Linked DNA regions of Homo sapiens: region 1 is linked to region 2. The links come from fine-mapping of genetic effects on gene expression. A gene starts in region 2. The other region holds a variant in brackets. All regions are shown on one strand. Distances are between the middles of the regions. Region 1 overlaps TUBGCP6 (tubulin gamma complex component 6). Region 2 holds the start of MAPK12 (mitogen-activated protein kinase 12).

Evidence for each region. PIP is the estimated chance that this variant, and not a neighbour inherited with it, causes the effect.
Region 1: its variant is fine-mapped to the expression of MAPK12 in whole blood (TOPMed, PIP above 0.99).

The regions. Positions count from the first base shown.
Region 1 is chr22:50,231,935-50,242,565 of GRCh38, forward strand. TUBGCP6 (tubulin gamma complex component 6) reads right to left here. Exons shown (of 25, transcript NM_020461.4): 2 at 8,270-8,433; 3 at 1,382-1,592. Among named protein-coding and RNA genes, the nearest start is that of TUBGCP6, 7.8 kb to the right of the region's middle. RefSeq lists enhancers at 6,572-7,073, 7,074-7,573, 9,471-9,770. The variant C/A (reference allele first, on the strand shown) is at 5,285.
Region 2 is chr22:50,256,128-50,266,758 of GRCh38, forward strand. It overlaps MAPK12 (mitogen-activated protein kinase 12), which reads right to left and starts at 5,556. Exons shown (of 12, transcript NM_002969.6): 1 at 5,258-5,556; 2 at 5,040-5,169; 3 at 2,116-2,174; 4 at 955-1,066; 5 at 808-837; 6 at 472-519; 7 at 1-72. The coding sequence starts at 5,382. MAPK11 (mitogen-activated protein kinase 11) reads right to left here. Exons shown (of 12, transcript NM_002751.7): 8 at 10,413-10,484; 9 at 10,099-10,178; 10 at 9,455-9,533; 11 at 9,194-9,367; 12 at 7,586-8,900. The coding sequence ends at 8,821. RefSeq lists enhancers at 2,575-3,147, 3,872-4,372, 5,942-6,673 and silencers at 4,795-4,974, 5,125-5,494, 5,525-5,834, 5,845-5,894.

The DNA.
Region 1 (10,631 bases), 24 kb before region 2:
TAGGGGCCGGGCGTGGCGGCTCACACTTGCAATCCCAGGACTTTGGGAGGCTGAGGCAGGCAGATCACTTGAGCCCAGGAGTTCAACACCAGCCTGGGCAACACGGCAAGACCCCATCTCTTCAGGCATTTTAAAAATTAGCTGGGTGGGCCGGGCGTGGTGGCTCATGCCTGTAATCCTAGCACTTTGGGAGGCTGAGGTGGGCAAATCACCTCAGGTCAGGAGTCAAGAGACCAGCCTGAGCAACATGGTGAAACCCCGTCTCTACTAAAAATACAAAAATTAGCCAGCCGTAGTGACATGCACCTGTAATCCCAGCTACTCGGGAGGCTGAGGCAGGAGAATTGCTTGAACCCGGGAGGCAGAGTTTGCAGTGAGCCGAGACCGTGCCATTACACTCCAGAATGGGCAACAGAGCGAGACTCTGTCTCAAAAAAAAAAAAGAAAAAGAAAAAGAAAAAGAAAAGAAAAAAATGAGCTGAGTGTGGTGGCACGTGCCTGTAGTCCCAGCTACATGGAGGCTAAGGTGGGAGGATTGAGATTCAGCCCAGGAGGTCGAGGCTACTGTGAGCTGTGATGGTGCCACTGCACTCCAGCCTGGGCAAGAGAGAGACCCTGTCTCAAAAAAAAAAAAGAGAGTCAGGGTTGGTTCCACACAATAAGGCTATCCCCACAACAGACAAGATGAGCTGTGAGCACGGTGTTGAGAACAGGCGCCCTCAGCGCCGGCAGCAGCTGGAGCTTGCTGGTGAGCACTTTTCTGGGGCAGTCACTGGCTGTGCTTCTAGTCCATTCTGAAGTCTAAGAATGGCCACCATAAAAGAACATTTAAGACAAAGGAAGGGGATGAGCACTTAAATGAAAAAGCTGCAGAGCAAGACTTCATTTTTCTGAATATATCCATTCACTTCTCCAGTGCCCAGCAAGAGGGCTGGCTAAACTGCAGCTGGTGCCAGAACCAGTAAGGCCCGGCCCCATCCCGGATGACACCGCATCCAGTGAGAAGAGCAGCGCAGGCCCCAGTCTCGGGACGCTCTCGGCAGGCAGATGCTCCTCCCGAGCGGTGGGAAGGCTCGGAAGGCGCCTGGCACTTCAGGACGGAAATGGAAATGCGGGGAGGAACATTTTCTATCGCTTTGCTGACAGCAATAAACATGTTATTTCTCTGCAGTTTTTTAAAAGGACATTAATAAATTAACACTTTTTAGAACCGAAATGGGATGATGCTGGCTGTCATCACTGGTGGCCCTGGGAGCTGGCCTTCCCTGCCACTCCCCACTCCCTGCACTGGGGCTTGTTCTGCCCCATAAAGGGCTGGGCACTGCGTGGTGGAGGGCAGGCCAGCCCCACACCACTGTGGCGGGGAGTGAGCAGTTCTCACCTGGCAGAGCGAAAACGTGGCAGACACGACCCCAATCAAGACGTTCAGCACGTCTTTCACCAGCTCGCACTCCTTCACCAGCACGGGCTGCGGGGCCTGTAGGACGCCCCCAGCAAGCAGCTGGAGCTCCCCTTGGTGGAGCCTGCAGAACTTGTCGAAAGCGTCCCTTCCCGCCTCCGTCAGGTAAGGCTCCTCTCTGTGGCCAGGGGGGCTGCGAGGGGTGCAGAAGAGAGGCCATGAGCAGACGTGGTGACCTGCACCTCAGCACCAGGGTGCTTTCTCTCGGGAATGGGCATGAACAGAAGAATGGAAGTGATTCAAAACAATAAACTCTAAGAAACATAGCCAGGTATGAATGTCAGCTCACCACCCAGCCTTTTGTGGATGCTGCTGCTGTGAATACCAGCACGATCGATTCTATCAGGACAACTCATGTGGAAAGTGTTCCAGGGCACCTTCCTGGGGTCCTGGGCATGGCCGGGGGTATCCGACTGGCCCAGCCCTGGAAGAGCACCCCAGGCCACGCCAGTGGCCCTCAAGATGGTGATTCACTCATAAAGTATTCTTCTGTTAGAAACAAAACAAGATTTGTACACCCATGTACACAACAGCATCTACACCCTGTCCATGGCAGCATCCACACCCAGGTCCATGGCAGCATCCACATCCCTGTTCATGGCAGCATCATCCACACCCCTGTCCACAGCAGCATCCACATCCAGGTCCACTGCAGCATCATCCACACCCCCTGTCCATGGCAGCATCATCCATACCCCATCCATGGCAGCATCCACACCCCCTGTCCACAGCATCATCATCCACACCCCTATCCACAGCAGCATCACCCACACCCATCCACGGCAGCATCATCCACACGCCCGTCCACAGCAGCATCTACACCCAGGTCCACAGCAGCATCATCCACACCCTCTGTCCACGGAAGCATCACCCACACCCCTGTCCATGGCAGCATCACCCACACCCACCCATGGCAGCATCATCCACACCCCTGTCCACAGCAGCATCCACACCCCTGTCCACAGCAGCATCCACACCCAGGTCCACGGCAGCATCATCCACACCCCTGTCCACAGCAGCATCCACACCCAAGTCCACGGCAGCATCATCCACATCCAGGTCCACAGCAGCATCGCCCACACCCCCGTCCACAGCAGCAGCATCCACACCCCTGTCCACAGCAGCATCCACACCCAGTTCCACAGCAGCATCATCCACACCCAGGTCCACGGCAGCATCGCCCACACCCCCGTCCACGGCAGCATCATCCACACCCCTATCCACAGCAGCATCATCCACACCCCCTGTGCACGGCAGCATCACCCACACCCCCGTCCACAGCAGCATCTACACCCAGGTCCACAGCAGCATCATCCACACCCCCTGTCCACGGCAGCATCACCCACACCCACCCATGGTACCAGCACCCACACCCCCGTCCACAGCAGCATCCACATCCAGGTCCACAGCAGCATCATCCACACCCCCTGTCCACGACAGCATCACCCACACCCCTGTCCCTGGCAGCATCACCCACACACACCCATGGCAGCATCATCCACACCCCTGTCCACAGCAGCATCCACACCCAGGTCCACGGCAGCATCGCCCACACTCCCGTCCATGGCAGCATCCACACCCAGGTCCACCGCAGCATCATCCACACCCCTATCCACGGCAGCATCCACCCCCTGTCCACGGCAGCATCAGCCACACCCCTGTCCACAGCAGTATCCACACCCCTGTCCATGGGAACATCATCCACAACCCTATCCACTGCAGCATCATCCACACCCGTGTCCATGGCAGCATCCACACCCCAGTCCATGGCAGCATCTACACCCCTATTCACGGCAGCATCATCCACATCCCTGTCCACGGCAGCATCATCCACACTCCTGTCCATGGCAGCATCCACATCCCTGTCCACGGCAACATCCACATGCCTATCCACATGCCTGTCCACGGCAACATCCACATGCCTGTCCACAGCAGCATCCACACCCCCGTCCACGGCAACAACATCCACAACAGCCAGGGGGAGAGGAGCCTGAGCCCCCAACAGAGGAGGATAAACACAGACCGTCCGTGCAGACCCCTGCCCATCATTCAGCCTTAAAAAGGAAGGCAGCTCAGACACGTGCTCCAGAAGGCACGGCACTCAAGGACGCCGTGTGGAGTGCAATGAGCCATCACAAAACACTGTCTCCACAGGGACGGCGCTCGAGGACGCCAAGTGGAGTAAAATGAGCCATCACAAAACACTGTGCAACTCCACTTACATGAGGTCCCTACAGTGGCCAAAATCCTAGAGACAGAAAGTGGAGGCCAGGTGCGGTGGCTCATGCCTATAATCCCAACACTTTGGGAGGCCAAGAAAGGCAGATCACGAGGTCAGGAGTTCAAGACCAGCCTGGCCAACATGGTGAAACCCTGACTCTACTAAAAACACAAAAATTAGCTGGGCGTGGTGGCGGGCATCTGTAATCCCAGCTGCTCAGGAGGCTAAGGCAGGAGAATGGCTTGAACCCGGGAGGTGGAGGTTGCAGTGAGCCAAGATCGTGCCACTGCACTCCAGCTTGAGCAACAGAGCAAGACTCCATCTCGGAAAAAAAAAAAAAAAAAGTGGAGTGAATGGGGAGCTGTTTAATGGGTTCAGAGTTTCCTGCAGACTTGCTGTGCAGCAGTGAAAATACACACAGCATTACAAAGCTGTACAACTGGTTAAGACGGTAAAAACATTATATAAATTTTACTGCCCCACCTCAGAAAAACCGTAAGAGATGGATACAGAAAAAAAAATTCACAATTTTTTTTTTTGAGACGGAGTCTCGCTCTGTCACCCAGGCTGGAGTGCAGTGGCACGATCTTGGCCCATTGCAACCTCTGCCTGCTGGGTTCACACCATTCTCCTGCCTCAGCCTCCCGAGTAGCTGGGACTACAGGCACGGGCCACCATGCCTGGCTAATTTTTTGTATTTTTAGCAGAGATGGGGTTTCACCGTGTTAGCCAGGATGGTCTCGATCTCTTGACCTCGTGATCCGCCCACCTCAGCCTCCCAAAGTGCTGGGATTACAGGCGTGAGCCACTGCACCTGGCTAAGTTCACAAATTTTTAAGACAGTAACAGGTAAGGTGGGCTGGTACAGGCAGCCCTGGGCACATGCAACTCTGAGGAAATTTGCCTTCTGCTGGTGCTGAGGCTGTGAAACCACATGTACTGGCACTACACACACTCACACCCCCGTCCTCCCTGCGAAAACAATCAGCTCCAAGAAACACACTTTTACTGGCCACCTCTGCTATGAAGAGGGTGGGCTGGAGGGGGCAGGAGGAAGGAGACCAGCCCTGAGATGTCCAGTCAGCAGGTGGGGCCGCTCTGGACCCCAGACGCCTGCCCAGGCTCCCTCAGGATGAGATGAGCATGAGAAAGACACAGCCTCTCAGAGCCTCTGTCTGCCCCCTGCATTTCTTCCTGCAGATGGCCTCGGCAGGGGTGCAGGCTGTGGGCACAACCCTGTTTCCCCCTGCAGCCACTTCCACCCCATCTCCTCCAGGACTGGCCCCCAGCACTGCCATGGCTGCACACCCCTCTTGGTGACTCAGAACTGAGGGAAAAAAAGCCCACAGCGGAAACACAAAGACACAGCGCAGGATCCTGCAGGCTCTGGAGTGAACACCCCCCGCCCCAACAGGTCCCCAGAGAGAACACAACCCAAAATGTAGCAAAATGCTTCCCCCAGATGGGTGGCACATGCAGAGAAAGAGACCATTCCAGGGTCTGAAAGGCCTCCCTCCGCCTTAACCCAGCCCTTGCAGCTCAGCAGCAGGGAGGGCCGTGAGCAGTCGGACAATGGTGGTTCTCAGGGTGGGCAACAGCAGGGG[C/A]GAGTGGCCCCCCGTGGGGTCTTGGGACCTGTGGGAAAGCAGGGTTGATGTCTTGGAGAGTGGAGAAGGCTCAATTTCTGGCTAGGCGGCAGTTTCTTTAGCCACCTGCTGGTCAGAGCTCATCACAGCAGGAAACTAGCAGGTGGCTGGGATTTAAAATGAAACAAGACCAAACGATTTGCCAAAGGAACTTGAACCACAGCATCAGGCTGACCCGACTGCAGTGTCAGGGGCCGTGGGATCAGGGAGTAGAGGGGCCCAGGAGACGTAAACTCAGGTCCAGCCACTGTGTGGCCCTGTGCAGGTCAGCCACTGGACACTGAGATGACCACAGCACTTTCACTCTGCAGGGCCCTGGGCAGAGAAAGTCCCTACAGGAGCTGCCCAGGCTGTGCTCAGCACACTGCCAGGCACACAGCAGCACCTCCCTATAGGAACCACCGCCAGGCCCCACCGTGCCGGAGCTCCGCAGCCTAGGAACCACCGCCGGGCCCCACCGTGCGGGAGCTCCGCAGTCTCCAGCGTATTCAGAACAGGGTGATGAGGAGAGTGAGTGACCATGTCTCCTCATCAGCAACCCGAAAAAATGAACCTAGAAAAGGGGGAGTTAATAAATGAAATACAGCCAGCACGGTGGCTCATGCCTGTAATCCCAGCACTTTGGGAGGCCGAGGCGGGTGGATCACCTGACGGTGGGAGTTCAAGACCAGCCTGACCAACATGGAGAAACACCATCTCTACTAAAAACACAAAATTAGCCAGGCGTGGTGTCCCATGCCTGTAATCCCACTGTAATCCCAGCTACTTGGGAAGCTGAGGCAGGAGAATCGCTTGAACCCAGGAGGCAGAGGTTGCAGTGAGCCAAGATTGCGCCATTGCACTCCAGCCTGGGCAACAAGGACAAAGAAAGAAAAAGAAAAGAGAGAGAGAGAGAGAGAGACAGACAGACAGACTTATGAGGGAGAGTTTGGGGGACCTAGTTTGTTTAGGATGAAAGGAGTTGCCTAATTATGGTGAGCTGAAGAATGTTCCAGGTGAAGGGAACCTGGTGTTGGAAGGTTCTGAGTTTTTACAAAAATTAGCTGGGCATGGTGGCAGGTGCCTGTAATCCCAGCTACTCAGGAGGCTGAGACAGGGAGAATTACTTGAACCCGGGAGGCGGAGGTTGCAGTGAGCTGGAGATGGTGCCACTGCACTCCAGCCTGGGCAACAGAACAAGACTCCGCCTCAATAAATAAATAAATACAAAAAAAAAACAGAAAAAAATACTATTAGCAGACATGTACAGAATAAAGCAATAACTTGTAGGGCCAGTTTTTTTTTTTGTTTTTTTTTTTGAGACGGAGTCTCGCTCTGTCACCCAGGCTGGAGTGCAGTGGCGCAATATCCGCTCACTGCAAACTCCGCCTCCCGGGTTCACGCCATTCTCCTGCCTCAGCCTCCCCAGTAGCTGGGACCACAGGCACCCGCCACCACGCCTGGCTAATTTTTTGTATTTTTAGTAGAGACGGGGTTTCACTGTGTTAGCCAGGATGGTCTCGATCTCCTGACCTCGTGATCCACCCGCCTCAGCCTCCCAAAGGCCAGTTTTTAAACGTGTGAGGGATTGGCAGAGAGCAGGACCATGAGATTTGCTTTGACTGATGCACCAGCAGGAAGTGACACAGCAGGAAGGCCCTGGCAGTCAGGATAAAGCCACCACCACCGTGCTGGGAAGCAGGGAGACAGCCAACCCTGAGGGAATCTTCATGATGTCAGGAAAGCTCGCCCACCCGGGGGCACATGCTCCTGTCCAGGCTGCCAGAGCCCAGCCACTGCATCCCAGAGCACTCAGCTCCCAGCCAGCCCTGACCCTTTCACCCAACACTCCCCAAACCGATACCCACAGGATCACCAGTGGACTGGATGTGAACGGGGCATTCCATGGCCAAACATTTGGGGAAGTGCGTGTTTTTTTGTTTGTTTGTTTTTTGTTTTTGAGACAATCTCACTCTGTCACCCAGGCTGGAGTGCAGTGGTGCAATCTCGGCTCACTGCAAACTCCACCTCCCAGGTTCAAGTGATTCTTGTGCCTCAACCTCCTGAGTAGCTGGGATTATAAGCGAGCACCACCACGCCCAGCTAATTTTTGTATTTTTAGTAGAGACGGGGTTTCACCATGTTGCCCAGGCCAGTCTCAAAATCCTGACTTCAAGTGATCTGCCCGCCTCAGCCTCCCAAAGTGCTGGGATTACAGATGTGAGCCACCGCGCCCAGGCGAAATGCATATTCTCTGCCTGGGTTCTGGGAGTTATCAAAAGATACCACCACATTAAAGACTCTGAGAGGTGCTGAGTGCAGAGGCCTCTGGACCCAGGTGAGCCAGGGAGTGAGTGGCTACCGCATCCAGAGAGCAAGCTGCTGGTACCAGTCAGGAAAAAGCTGCTGCAGCTGGAGCTTCTCATCACCCAGACTGCCCCTCCCAACTCCTCCAGACACGGACGGAAAAGGTTCCGTGTTCATCAGCACCCCAATTCCTCTAGACATGAATGGAAAAGGCTCCTTCATCAGCACCCCATGCCCAGTGAGCATTTCTTCCTGGCACTAATCACACAGCCTGCCAGGCAGCTCTCTTGCTCTTAAGGACATAACTTAGCTGCCCCAACTGCTCTGCCTGGCAGGTGTGATCTGGTTACTGGCACGGGGAGGGGAGCTCTGCCCGACAGGTGTGATCTGGTTACTGGCACAGGGAGGGGAGTTCTGCCCGACAGGTGTGATCTGGTTACTGGATGGGGAGGTGAGGCCTCCTTAAAGGCTGTTAGTGCTTTCCCCTCTGCATCTCTCTTAACTCCCAGGACTCAGTCAATTTTGGACACTAGCTTAGGTTACTAACCCATCACAACTGCCTGGACCCCTGAGTACACAACGCCCCCCACACACCCCATCCAAGGCCACGCTCATGCAGGGGTAGGGGCACTGCATGCCAAGGCAAAGAAGGGCACACACCAGCCAACTCGCTCCCAGCACCTCCGCTTGCTGGCCTCATAGGTAAGTGCGGCTTCCCACAGGTCCACGTCTGGGGTCACGCTGGGCTCAGACTGGGAATCAGGAGTCAAGTTGGACGCTGACTGGAATCCTTCGTCTTCCCACTGATCCACACTCGGTGGGACCTGGAGACACAGGGAAGGGCAAACCGCCACTTATTGCTGTGTCCACGTTTCATCCAAGGGCGATGAGAATTTCAGGAACTTTATGCAAAGACCTAACAAAATGTTTCTTCTGTTTTTCTCAAGCGCATGTGTACCATACAATGTTTCCCACCAATGAGCCATTTAAGGAATTAAACAAAATAAGTCGTCAAGGCTGCCAATTTCCAATTCCATGTAACACATAAGCCTCAGTGGAACTTAGAGTGAAACTTTTTGAGATGCCTCAGACCTGGAAATTCCAATGTGGGGAACCCAGAATTAAAAAAATCACACTCAACATTAAAACACTACTGTACACCGGGGCCAGGCGCAGTGGCTCACGCCTGTAATCCCAGCACTATGGGAGGCTGAGGCAGGTGGATCACCTGAGGTCAGGAGTTTGAGACCAGCCTGGCCAGCATGTGAAACCCCGTCTCTACTAAAAATATAAAAATCGGCCAGGCGTGGTGGTGGGCACCTGTGGTCCCAGCTACTCGGGAGGCTGAGGCAGAAGAATTGCTTGAACCCGGGAAGCGGAGGTTGCAGTGAGCCGAGATTGCGCCACCACACTCCAGTCTGGGCGACAGAGCAAGACTGTGGGCAGCAAGCCACCCAGGTGCCGAGGCAAGAGACCGAGGGCACGAGCTGTTCTAGTACAATAAAATATATAGAACAAGAATAGTTACACTATAGATCATAAATATGATTATATATGAACGTTATTAATCATTAGTTTGTAGCAATTGCTCTTTATTCCAAGATTATAATAATCTTCGCTCTACAATTGTAACTTACGAGAAACCAGGCCATACAGAGACAGGAGCTGAAGGGGCAAGGTGAGAAGTGACCAGAAGACAAGAGTGTGAGCCTTCTGTCATGCCCAGACAGGGCCACTAGAGGGCTCCTTAGTCTAGTGGTAATGGCAGCACCTGGGAAGACGCCCATTACCTAGCGGACCTTGGTCTAGCGGTAGCGTCAGTGCCTAGGAAAAGCACCCACTACTTAGCAGACCAGGAAAGGGAGTCTCCCTTTCCCTGGGGGAGTTAGAGAAGACTCTGCTCCACCACCTCTTGTGGAGGGCCTGACATGACTCAGGCCCACCCGCAGTTATCCAGAGGCCTAAACGTCTCCCTGTGATGCTGTGCTTCAGCAGTCACACTCCTAGTCCACTTTCATGTTCCATCCTGTACACCTGGCTCTGCCTTCTAGATAGCAGTAGCAAATTAGTGAAAGTACTAAAAGTCTCTGAAATGCAGAAATAATGGTGTAAGCTGTCTCCTCTCTCTCTGCTTCGGCTGCCAAACAGGGAAGGGCCCCCTGTCCAGTTGACACGTGACCCACGTGACCTTACCTATCATTGGAGATGACTCACACTCCTTACCCTGCCCCTTTTGCCTTGTATCCAATAAATAACAGCGCAGCCTGGCATTTGGGGCCACTACTGGTCTCCACGTGTTGGTGGTAGTGATCCCCCGGGCCCAGCTGTTTTTTCTTCTATCTCTGTCTTGTGTCTTTATTTCTACCATCTCTGGTCTCCGCATATGGAGAGAAAAACCCACAGACCCTGTAGGGCTGGTCCCTACACAAGACTCCATCTCAAAAAAAAAAAAAAAAAAAAAAAAAAGAACAATCAGGCCGGGCTCACGCCTGTAATCCCAGCACTTTGGGAGGCCGAGGCGGGCAGATCACGAGGTGAGGAGATAGAGACCATCCTGGCTAACACGGTGAAACCCCGTCTCTACTAAATATACAAAAAATTCGCAGGGCGTGGTGGCAGGCACCTGTAGTCCCAGCTACTCAGGAGGCTGAGGCGGGAGAATGGCGTGAACCTGGGAGGCAGAGCTTGCAGTGAGCCAAGATTGTGCCACCGCACTCGAGCCTGGGCGACAGAGCGAGACTGTGTCAAAAAAAAAAATCAAATAAAATAAAAAAATAAAAATACAAACATATAAAATACAAAAATTAGCTGTGTGTGGTGACGCACACCTGTAGTCCCAGATACTTAGGAGGCTGAGGCAGGAGAATCGCTTGAACCCAGGAGATGGAGGTTGCAGTGAGCCGAGACCACACCACTGCACTCCAGCCTGGGCGACAGAGCAAGACTTGTCTCAAAAACAAAAAACAAAACTGCTGTACACCAAGACATTTGCTGTAGCATTATGTATGTTTCTAAATCATCT
Region 2 (10,631 bases):
CCGGTACCACCGGGTCACCACGTACCCAGTCATCTCACTGTCTGCCTGCCTGGCCAGGCCGAAGTCCAGGATCTGTGGGAAGAATTGGGGAGGTGGGTTCTAGGGGACTCCCAAGGAGCGGACAGGCCACCCACGGTCCAGGAGACCCCGGGGGGTTGGACTTGAAGCTCCCAAGCTGGGGCCTCCTGACAACCTTCAAGGACTTGAGGCCACGCCCTCGGACCCCAAACTGCCCCGAGCTCCTCCCTCTGGCCAGTGCACCAAGCCCAGCAGCCCTCGGGACGGAGCAGGTGCCCTGGGTACGGCATGTTGTGTACCACTGCCTCTTGGGCTCACCCACCCACCAGCTCCTCAGCCACTGCCCAGAGCCTGGGACCTTGGCCCCCTGCCCAGGCCTGACAGGTGGATAGATGGGCAGATCCAGAGGGGGCCCCTGCCCCACCTCAGGGCCCCCTGCCAGGCAGCACACACCTTCAGCTCACAGTCTTCGTTCACAGCCAGGTTGCCGGGCTTCAGGTCCTGGGGGCAGAGGAAAGGTGGCCACTGTGCCCCACCCTCCCAAGCATGGGCACAGCCAAGAGCCTGGGTGGCACCTAAAGATGGGGCCACCGGACCTGGCCCCCTTGCTCTCTGCAGCCCTTCAAGGGCAGACCAAGGTACCTGGGCACCCAGGCAGGTTCCCACCAGGGGCTGTGCATAGGGCGTGGCTCAGCACCCAGACCCCATCACATCCTCACAGGTGGGACGTGGAGGCGGGGGGATTGCACTGGGGGAGGGCTGATGAGCGGCTTCTCCACCGGGACTCACTCTGTGGATGATGCCGGCAGCGTGGATATACTGCGGGGGGCAGAGGATTTGGCAGGCTTCAGCGCACCCTCTCAGAGCCACAGGGCCCTCCTCTGCCCAGCCCCGAGGCCCTGCCTGCCTCCCTGCAGCCTCCCCCGGGGCCCGTACCCTCAGCCCCTTCAGCATCTGGTACACGAGGAACTGGATCCGGTCCTCGCCTAGCTTCTCATGTTTCATGAGCTTGCCCAGGTCGGTGCCCATGAACGGCATCACCAGGTAACTGTGGGAGGGGCCGGAGCGCTGTCAGCGGACAGAGCCAGCCTCTGCATCCCAGAGACCCACCCAGCAGGCCCAGGCTCAGACCCGTCCCGGATCCAACAGGCACCCCCAGGAAGGTCACCCCTGCAGCACACATCCACACTGGCCTCGGTGTCCTCGCAGCCCCACCTTGCAGTGCCAGGCTCCATCCTCCCGCAACTGTTACTGCCAGCAGCGCTCACACCCCCCTCCCACCCTGAGGACTGTCAGGCAGGGAGGAGGCTGCCTTGGGGTTTTTGAACCCTCCGCTGAAGCGCCCTGCGTGCCAGGCTAGGGGCTGAGGCTCCATGGTAGAGGCAGCAGGACTCGAGTCTTCACAGGCAGGGGAGGGAGGCAGTCAGGTTTCAACTTCACAACTTTGTGCCAGAAATGAGGGAGGTGCCTGGGGGCGATGGGGGCGCGGCAAGGCATCTGGGTCAGAGGGGTCGGCTGGGCCGGTGGAGACAGACACAGGAGAATGGTATTTAGCACCTTCCCAGAGGCCACTGACTTGACCTCTGCAAGTCAGGCGGGAGGCGCCTGCTACCCTCTCCAGGCCTTCCTCGGCCTGGCCCTTCACTCTTGGCCGACAGGGTGTGAGTCCCAGGGTGGTCGGCTGCAGGGCAGGGGCAGGGTGGGTCCTCCCTACCGCTTCTCCCCCACCCGCTGGAAAAGGTCAGCAGCTCCAGTTACCGGCCACACACTTGGTGCCAGGGTCCCGAGCACGGGACCTTCCTGTTAACAAATGGTCAGGTCCAAGGTTCACACCTCCGGTGCTGGAGAGGGCCCAGGTGCCAGGCGTGGAGAGAGGCAGCAGCCCCAGCTCTGCCCAGCTGTGCCAGTGCCCGTGGGTCCCAGGACCATGTGGGGGAGGGCGTGGGGTGGACAGTGGTATGGGGAGGGGGTGGGCGGTGTGCATCCCCCACTCAGGCTGCAGGAAGAGAACCCCATTGCCAACCTAGAACCTGAAGCCAGTGCCCAGAGCTGCCCAACACCCCTCGTGCCCAGCGGCCAGCCCAGGTCGGCACTCACAAGTCCGTGAAGTCATCCAGGGTCTCATCAGGAGTGAATACGTCCAGCAGCCCGATCACCTGGGGGGGCCACATAGGGTTGAGAATGCAGCAGAGGACACGGGCTGGGGCACCCCCCAAGAGTGGCACAACCCTCTGGGCAGGAAACCCCCTCTGCAGCTGTCATTGTCATGCCCCACTGTCCAAAGGGCCTGGCTCTGCCCACTGGCAGTGTGGCCCAGCCCTGGCACACATACCCACTGGCAGTGTGGCCCAGCCCTGGCACACATACCCACAGAAAGGTTATTTTTGGACGGTGACAACCGGGATCTTCTGGGGGAGGGGCAACCCGGAGTCTGGGATGGCTCCGAACCATCCAAAGGGCTCCTGCCGCCTGACCCTTTCACCCCTCTTCACCCCAACCAAACAGATCCAGGCCCAGGGTGGGGACAGCGCTATGGAAAGAGGCCAGGCCTCTGCTGGTGAGGCCCAGGCGGACAGCACCGTGACCCACCAGACCTGGTCCCCTCAGCACCCCTGGTTGGGGAGATAGACAGTAGACAGGTCATGTGACAACTGCCGCCTCAGCATTTTGGGGTGACGGTCCCAGGGAGGCCTGGAGTTTTGCACAGCCAAGGGTGGAGGGGCAGGTAGACATGTGGGCTGCGGGACACCTGGCAGAGGGCACACACAGAGTGGCCGAGGCAGGAGGGAGCACACTTGGATAGTTTGAAGAATACAGGGAGGGAGGCCAGGTGGCGGAGGCCCAGGCCAGGGAGGGGCTGAGGAGAGGCCAGAGGGAGCCGGCAGGGCAGCACACACCAGGTGGAAGTTTGGCTTTGATCCCAAGAGACGGGGACGATTTAAATGGGGACGTGAGGCTAAATGCGTCCTCCTGGCCGTGGTGTAGGAACCGGCCAGAGTGAGGTAAGAATGGACACAAGCTGGAAGGACAGCTCCGCCGGAGCCACGTGGGCCAGAGCCATGGGCAAGAATGTGGAGGGAGGAGGAGAGGGAACAGAGGGGGTGTCCAGGGGGCAGCGGGGACTGTGGACATGAGAGCTGGAGGGTGCCCGGGAGAGTGCTTTAGCAGAAGACGGAGAGCAGGGTCCTGTGGGCTAGGGGCCACAGGACTTGGCCTGGCCTCTGTGGTATGGGGGCTGGCCTGGAGAGGGAGGCGGCCTGGCAGGACTGAGGCCTGTGGCAGAGCCTCCTCCCCCGCTGAGCAAGGCACGTGGCCTCACAGAGCTTCAGTCTCCCAGGAAGATGGGGTTCCAGGGAAAGAGCCTCAGCTGCAGGCCAGGAGCCCAGGGGGTGGGCCCACAGGCACAGCGGAGATCCCAGCACAGCGGGGCGGTGGCTAAAGAAAAGCCCCGGTGGAGCCCGGCGCGGTGGCTCACGCCTGTAACCCCAGCACTTTGGGAAGCCGAGGCGAGCAGATCACTTGAGGTCAGGGGTTCGAGACCAGTCTGCCCAACATAGTGAAACCTCATCTCAACTAAAAATACAAAAAATTAGCCAGGCGTGGTGGCGCGCGCCTGTAATCCCAGCTACTGAGGAGGCTGAAGCAGGAGAATCGCCTGAACCCAGGACGCGAAGGTTGCAGTGAGCTGAGATCGTGCCATTGCACTCCAGCCTGGGCAACAAGAGCGAAACTCGGTCTCAAAAGAAAAAAAAAGAAAAAAAGCCCCAGAGCGCTTGGCTGGATGGGGCAAGGCACGGGTGGGTGAGTGGGTGGGTGGGAGCAGGGGGCCGTGGGGAAGGCTGCAGTCCTGGGGCAAGGCCTTGGTGTGATGGGCGGGTGGTGGGGGGGTGCGGTGCCGGCGAAGTGGGGGCAGGGCTGGGTGTGACGGGGTGTCGAGGTGCGGGCAGGGCTGGTGTCCACTGCAAATGGATTTCACAGGGCCCAGGGTAGTGAGCTGGGGGTCAGGGTGGGCATGGGAAGCCTCAGAGAAAAAGACCCATCCAAGGGGCTGAGGGAGTAGCGGTGGCCAGGAACCGGGGGACGGGGCACTTTGCTGGTGGACGGGGCACTTTGCTGGTGGACGCAGGGACTCGTTCTCCCAAGGCACCGGTGGCTCAGATGACCCAGGAGGGTCCAGAGCATCTCACCCTGTAGGTAGGGTCCGGGTGCCCAGACCACCAGCCCTCAGGCTGGGCCCAGACCAGGGGGAGGGCAGGAGTGACGTGGGGGGCAGTGGACAAGTGGGACTGTATCCAGAAACCAGAGCACCCCTGGCAGAGAGATCGGGTTCTTAGCAGCCAGCCACCGCCATGGGAGAGGCCCAGGGCAGCTGTACGTGGCATCTCACTGGAAGGACTGGAAAGGATGGGCCCCCACAACGCACAGGAGGGTGTCTGTGAGGCGGCCACCACGCCCAGTGCTCCTCAAACAGCAGCTCCCTAAACCCTTCACCCCCAGGGGCTCCTGAGGGTTCAACACACTCCCTGCGTTCTGGCGCCCCCCTCCTCCCCCTCCACCACCGGGTCGGAAGACTCGGGAGATGGACAGCAGCAGAGTGGGCTCCACAGAGGGGCTGGAAAGGGGATGGGGAAGAGGGAAGGTGCCCCTTCCAGGAAAATCCTCCCGCCGGGAGCATGCTCTCACCGCGGGCTTCCTGGCTGGGGGCAAGGCTTGGCGTGAGACCTGGAGGATCCCCTGGGCCTGGCCAAGTCGTGTTCCCTGACCAGGGCCTGGCTGAGGCGCCGAGTCAAGGGGCTGAGTCCTTCCCGGGGCTGGCGGAGGATGGGGAACGGCCCTTGGGGGAGTCGTCTCCCAAGGAGAGACAGGCCTTGCTCTCCTTCTCCCCTGGGGACCCACGGCCCGACCCCCGCCCGGCCCCACAGCAGGCTGCCTGGAGGAGGGGTTGCCGGGTGGGGGAACCCAGCCCAGCTGAACCAAGCCGAGGCCGCGGCGCCTTCCCGGAGCGGGGCCGCGCGACTCACGTTCTCGTGGCGCATGTGCTTGAGCAGGCGCAGCTCGCGGTAGGCGCGCTTGGCGAACAGCTCGGACTGGAAAGGCCGATACAGCTTCTTGATGGCCACCTTAGCGCCGGTGCGGCCGTCCACGGCCGAGCTGCGGGGCGGACCGCTTAGCGGGAAGGCCGGGCACCCCGCGCAGGCCCCGCCCGCCCCGCCGGCCGCCCCGCCCGGCCCGCGCTCACCACACCGCGCCGTAGGCGCCCGAGCCCACGGGCTGCAGGTCCCGGTACACGGCGCGCACCTCCCAGGCCGTCTTGGTCACCTCCTGGCGGTAAAAGCCACTGCGGGCGGGCGGCGGAGAGCTCATGGCAGGCCCGGGAGCTGCCCACCCCGCAGAGCCTGCGGGCGGTGCCCCCACGACCGGGGACGGGGCTCCCTCGGCGCGCGCCTCGGGCCGGCTCCGCGCCGCTCGTCCGCTCGCCCGCCCGCCCGCCGGCCGCTGGGGCGCTCCCGCTCCCGGCCCTTCCCTCAGGGATGTCCCAGGTGCCGACCCCGGCCCGACCCCGACCCAGGCTGCGCACGGCCCCTCCCCCGCCCGGGGACCAACCGGCCCGCGGGCGGCGCGCACGTGACGCCCTCGCCCGCCCTCCGGCCCCTCCGGAAACCCGAGGCGGCCGCCGCCGGGGGAGGGCCGGAGCCTGGGGAGGGCCGGAGCCTGGGGGGAAGCGCAGGGGGAGGGGAGCGCCGCCCCGCAGCTTCGTCCCCATAAAGGGCCGGACGCGGCGCGGAGATACCTCTGCCAGCCTCTCCCCTTTGGCTGAACTTCCCCGCCCTGGGGGGGTCTCAGCAGGAGCCCCCCCCCCCCCCCCCCGCCCGCTCCAGTCCTAACTCCCCACGGCTCCAGGGCGCAGGGCCCATCCTTGACAGCCTGAGCGCTGACTTCTATGGCAGCCGCAAGTCGGGCTGAGCCCTGTGTTCCCGGGGTCAACTTCGCAGGCCACCCCCAAGGATGCCCTACCACTGAGCCTGATCCATCCGTCCCCCAACAAGGGGTCCATCTGCACCTGTCCTGCCTGTATCCCTCTTTCTACACGGAGGGGTCTGTCCCCCAAACTCCTCAGGCTGCATCCCCAACCCCACTCCTGTGGCCACTGACCCCGGGCCTCTCAGTCCCATAGGTCCCCGTGGGCCCTTTTGGACCCCCAGCTCCTCCCCCTGCTCCCCCCATCTGTGGGGTGCCTGCTCCAAGCATTGCAAGTACTGGTGTCTCTGCCCATCCCACCCCTGCCTGTCCTGTCCTGCAAAACCCAGGCTGAGAGTGGCTGCACTCTCTCCAGCAGGGATGGGGACCTGCTGGGGCCCTCCGCCTGACCCCTCTGTGTGGGCATTGTCCTCCCATAGGTCTGGCCCCATCCTGGACCAGATGCTCCTGAGGGCAAAGCCCCACCCTGACACCCCTTCACCAGCCCAGGAACCTGGATCTCAGAAGGGATGTTGGGGCACCCCAGGAGCCCACTGGGCTGGTGGGTAACAGGATCCCTAGGGCCTTCTGCCCCGCCCTCCTGCCATGAATCAGCAGCTCAGCCGCTCAAGGGTGGTAGTAGCTTTACACCTGGGCTTGGGCCGTGCTCCACGGCATTCACCAGCTCGTGACCAGTGAGCGGGGCAGCCCAGGGCCACCCAAACCACAGCTGCCTGTGGCCCATACCCTTTGTGCCCTGGGCTGCCTGTGGCACTCCATCCACCTCTTCCAGGAAGCCCAGCTTCCACGCTGTCCCCCTTACTCCCCGTGGTGGGGCTCAGGGGTCCAGCAGGCCCTGCACGGACCAGGCTTCTGAGGTGGGGCTGTGTCACCATTCTCCTCCCACCCCCAACCGCCAACACTGGACTTCCCCCGGGATTGACCACTACACTGACCAGGCCCCAGGAGGCCCCCAACTCCCAGACGGTTTCCACCCCTACCCAAGACCCAAGCAAGGGCACAGACTGTCCCTGGTCCTTAGAGACACTGCCTGACCCCAAATGGCCTGGACCCTCCCCCACACATAAGCTGCAGCGCGTAGTGGGAACGGGACCAGCGTGCACATTCCCTGGGTTAAAGTGGCCTCTTTTTCCTTCACCAGGAGGGAAAGGAAAGCTATTTTCCCTACCCTGCCCAGCCCCCACCCAGGGATGGGCAGACCCTTGCTCCTTGAGACACCCAACTTCTCCCCAGCCAGCTTCCCTGAACACTGAGGGGTAGGCGGGGGTGGTGTCTGGATCTTGGCCCAAAGCCAAGCCTGCCCAGTACATCCCCACAGGGCAGCTGGGGTCACCATCTGGGTGGCTGTCACACCCTGTGCCCTCAAAGTCTGCCCATCAGCCATGTCTTCCCCTGGTCCCCCTGGGCTCTCAGACCCTCCAGGGAGCAGGGAGGGTGCCAGAAGATGGCCGCTGGTCTGACTGGGGGCCTGAGGGATCTGGCCAGCTGGAGGTGAGTGATGCAGGATGACCCAGACACTCCCCCCACGCCCAGCAGCAGGGATGGTGGGGGCACCCGGGCCTGGAGTAGCCTTTGGATACAAGCCAAGTGAGAGAGAACCCCCTTTATTGTGCACCCCTGGTGCAGGCACTTGACACCCAGGCTTCCCTGGGCCCCTCGAGGCAAGAGGTCACCCCCTTTCCAGGGCAGAGCCACACCCCCAACTCAGCTCTGGGCAGGGTCCCGTCTCCGAGGTTACTGGATCAGCTCCATCCTGGGACAAGGAAAGAGGACTGACCCACAGACCAGAGCACCTCAGATCTCCGGCTGCAGGGCCACAACGGTGGGCAGAGGTAGAGAGCGGGCCAGGGTGCAGGGCAGAAGTGTCCGAGTCCAAGTCCACATCCAGGTGTGCTGCCTGCCCTAGCGTCCTCAAGGCCAAACCACCCACCCACCCACCCCCAGCCTCAGGAAGCTGCTGTGGGTCCCACATCCAAGGAGAAAGCCCCTGCCCATGCTCATGTGGTTGCCCTTTGGCCCACTGGAGCCGCCAGTCTGAAACACCCCTCAAGGCATCAGGAACCGAGGAGAGGGAAGGCAACAGCACACCCACCCCGGCTCCAGCTTCTTGCCAGATATGGCTGCTGGCCTTGGGCGCCCACAGATTCACACGCACCACATCACATGTGCCCTGACATATGAACACGGGGAGTGCACGCTCATCCACACGTGCCCACACACACCCACGGGTGAACACAAGACTCCAGGCAGCTTTTCTCATTTGACACCTGGTGGTTGTCCCTGCCCAGCCTGGTGGCACACTGGCTCTGCCTCTCCTCTTAGACCTGTGGGTCTCAGCAGTGACCAAGACAGCCCCCTACCTCCAGGCTGAGCAGCTCTAACCACTGAGACCTCTCCCTTTGAGTCTCCCGGGGTCCCGGCCCCAGCGCGTCCTCCAGAAAGCCCTGGGACAGAAGAGAGCCCAAGGCTGACACTCCCTTGGGTCGGCCTGGGACAGACAGGGGAACTCCGCAGGGGAACCCCTTTGGCATCTAGGACCCCACAGTCAGGTCCCAGTGGAGAGTGCAGTAGCCAGAAGAGGACAGGAGGACCAAGGTAGGCCCAGGGACACTTGTGCCCAGACTCCTACACATGGCAAGCACATGTACACACATGTTTGTGCATGCATACATGCGTGTAGATTCTCCTGAAGGCGAGGGGTCCTAGGCCAGAAGTCTGTGACCATAGGAGTGTGGGAGGTGCCTCTCGAGGAAACCAGGCCAGCTGTGGAAGGGTGCAGGCCCAAGCCCCTCCACAGGCTCTCAGGGGCTGCTGGGCAGCACCTCACTGCTCAATCTCCAGGCTGCCAGGTGGCTTCGGTGGCTCTGGGGGCTTGAAGCTGAGGACTTCCTGGTAAGTGAGCTCTAGGAGGTGAAGGGAAAGGGTGAGCTTGTGCCTCCCACAGCCCGGCCCCTCACCTGCTTGTCTGGCACCTGCCACCCAGCCCAGGCCCACCACCCTGTGACAGCAGCCTCAGCACAGTCTGGGAGCCAGAACCTGCCCTGTGTCACTCCTCCGCCCCGCTCCCAGCCTGTGCTGGACACCTGAACGCCCTTCCACACCTGACCAGTCTGGAGAGGAACTGGGGCATTTCCTGCCTCTGGGGAAATGGAGCCCGCAGGCCCCTGGACCCACCCCCAGCCACTGCCATGCTCACCCTTCCACTCCTCCAGCGTGCGCTCCTTGGCCTCAACGCTCTCATCATATGGCTCGGCCTCTGGCTCATCCTCGGGGTCGTGGTACTGGCTGAAGTAGGCGTGGGCCAGTGCCTCAGCTGCACTGACCCTCTGGTCACTGTCCAGCACCAGCATCCTTCCAAGGAGGTCTATGGCTGCAGGGAAGCCAGTGGTGGGGAGGGGGGTCAGCTGTACATCCAGGGCCAGATATGGAGCCCAGTCTAGCCCAGGGCAGTCCTCACCCAGGGGGTTGGCTCCACGGAAGATGCTGCTCAGGTCCTTCTGGGGCATGGGGGGCAGGGACTGGATATATGTCCGGGCCTGGGGGCACACAAGAACACCTGGGGAGGCTGCTCACTCTCTGCCTCCCTGGCCCCAAACTGGGGCTTCTCTTGGCAAGCCCCCAGACTCATTCACTCCAACAGGCCAGGACAAGGGCACAGGCAGACCAGTGACCCCCTCCATATAGGATCTGGTGGTTCTAGCTCCTCAGTTGGCCCCTAATGCCTGCAGGAGCTGGGTCCAAGTACACTCCCTCCACCCAGCCCACCCCCACTGCCCTGGCCAGGCACTGCTTGCTGGGGTCCCCCAGCCCACCCCCACTGCCCTGGCCAGGCACTGCTTGCTGGGCCCCCAGCCCACCCCCACTGCCCTGGCCAGGCACTGCTTGCTGGGGTCATGGCTTTGCACTCACTGTCCCTGGTGTCAGGAATGTCTTCCCCCTTCTCCTGTTTCCCCTGCAGGGATTGGGCACCTGCCCTAGGCTCTATCCCACCACATCCCATGTTCCCCATATGGTCCCCGCATTTCCACACCACCCTCTCCCCCAGAGAGCCTGGGGGCTCAGCCAGGAGAGGGAGCTGCTGGCTGGCGGGCACCAACTCACGTGTTCTGAGGAGATTTTTGCCAGAACCTCAGGGCTGGGTGTGCCCACCACTTCCATGATGCGCTTCAGCTGGTCAATGTCTGTGTCACTCAGGAAACACCCACGGGCCAGCCACAGACCCCTCCTGGGCCCCCAGACCCAAAACTTTGGGGCGCTGCCCAGAGCCCGCTCTCCTATAGGTGAGGATGGCCAGCCCAAAGTAGCATAGCATGGGGGGCAGAGGAGGCAAGACCCGCCAGAAGGGGCCAGCGCTGGTCCCTACCCTACAGGAGGGGCCCTGTTTGACCCTGCTCCCCAACCTGGGCCAAGGATACAGTCGCTTCCCGGGAAGAGGGCCTTGCCCTGGAGCAGCTCAGCCATGATGCAGCCCACGGACCAGATATCCACTGTGCGAGGGCGAGGGGACCTCCATCAGTGTGCCCACCCCACGTCCCTCCTCCAGGAGACCCACAGTCACATCCAGACCCCAAGATGGGCAGACCCCCTCCTCTGCCATACCCAACCCCCCTAGGCAGGGGGAGGTCCATAGCTGC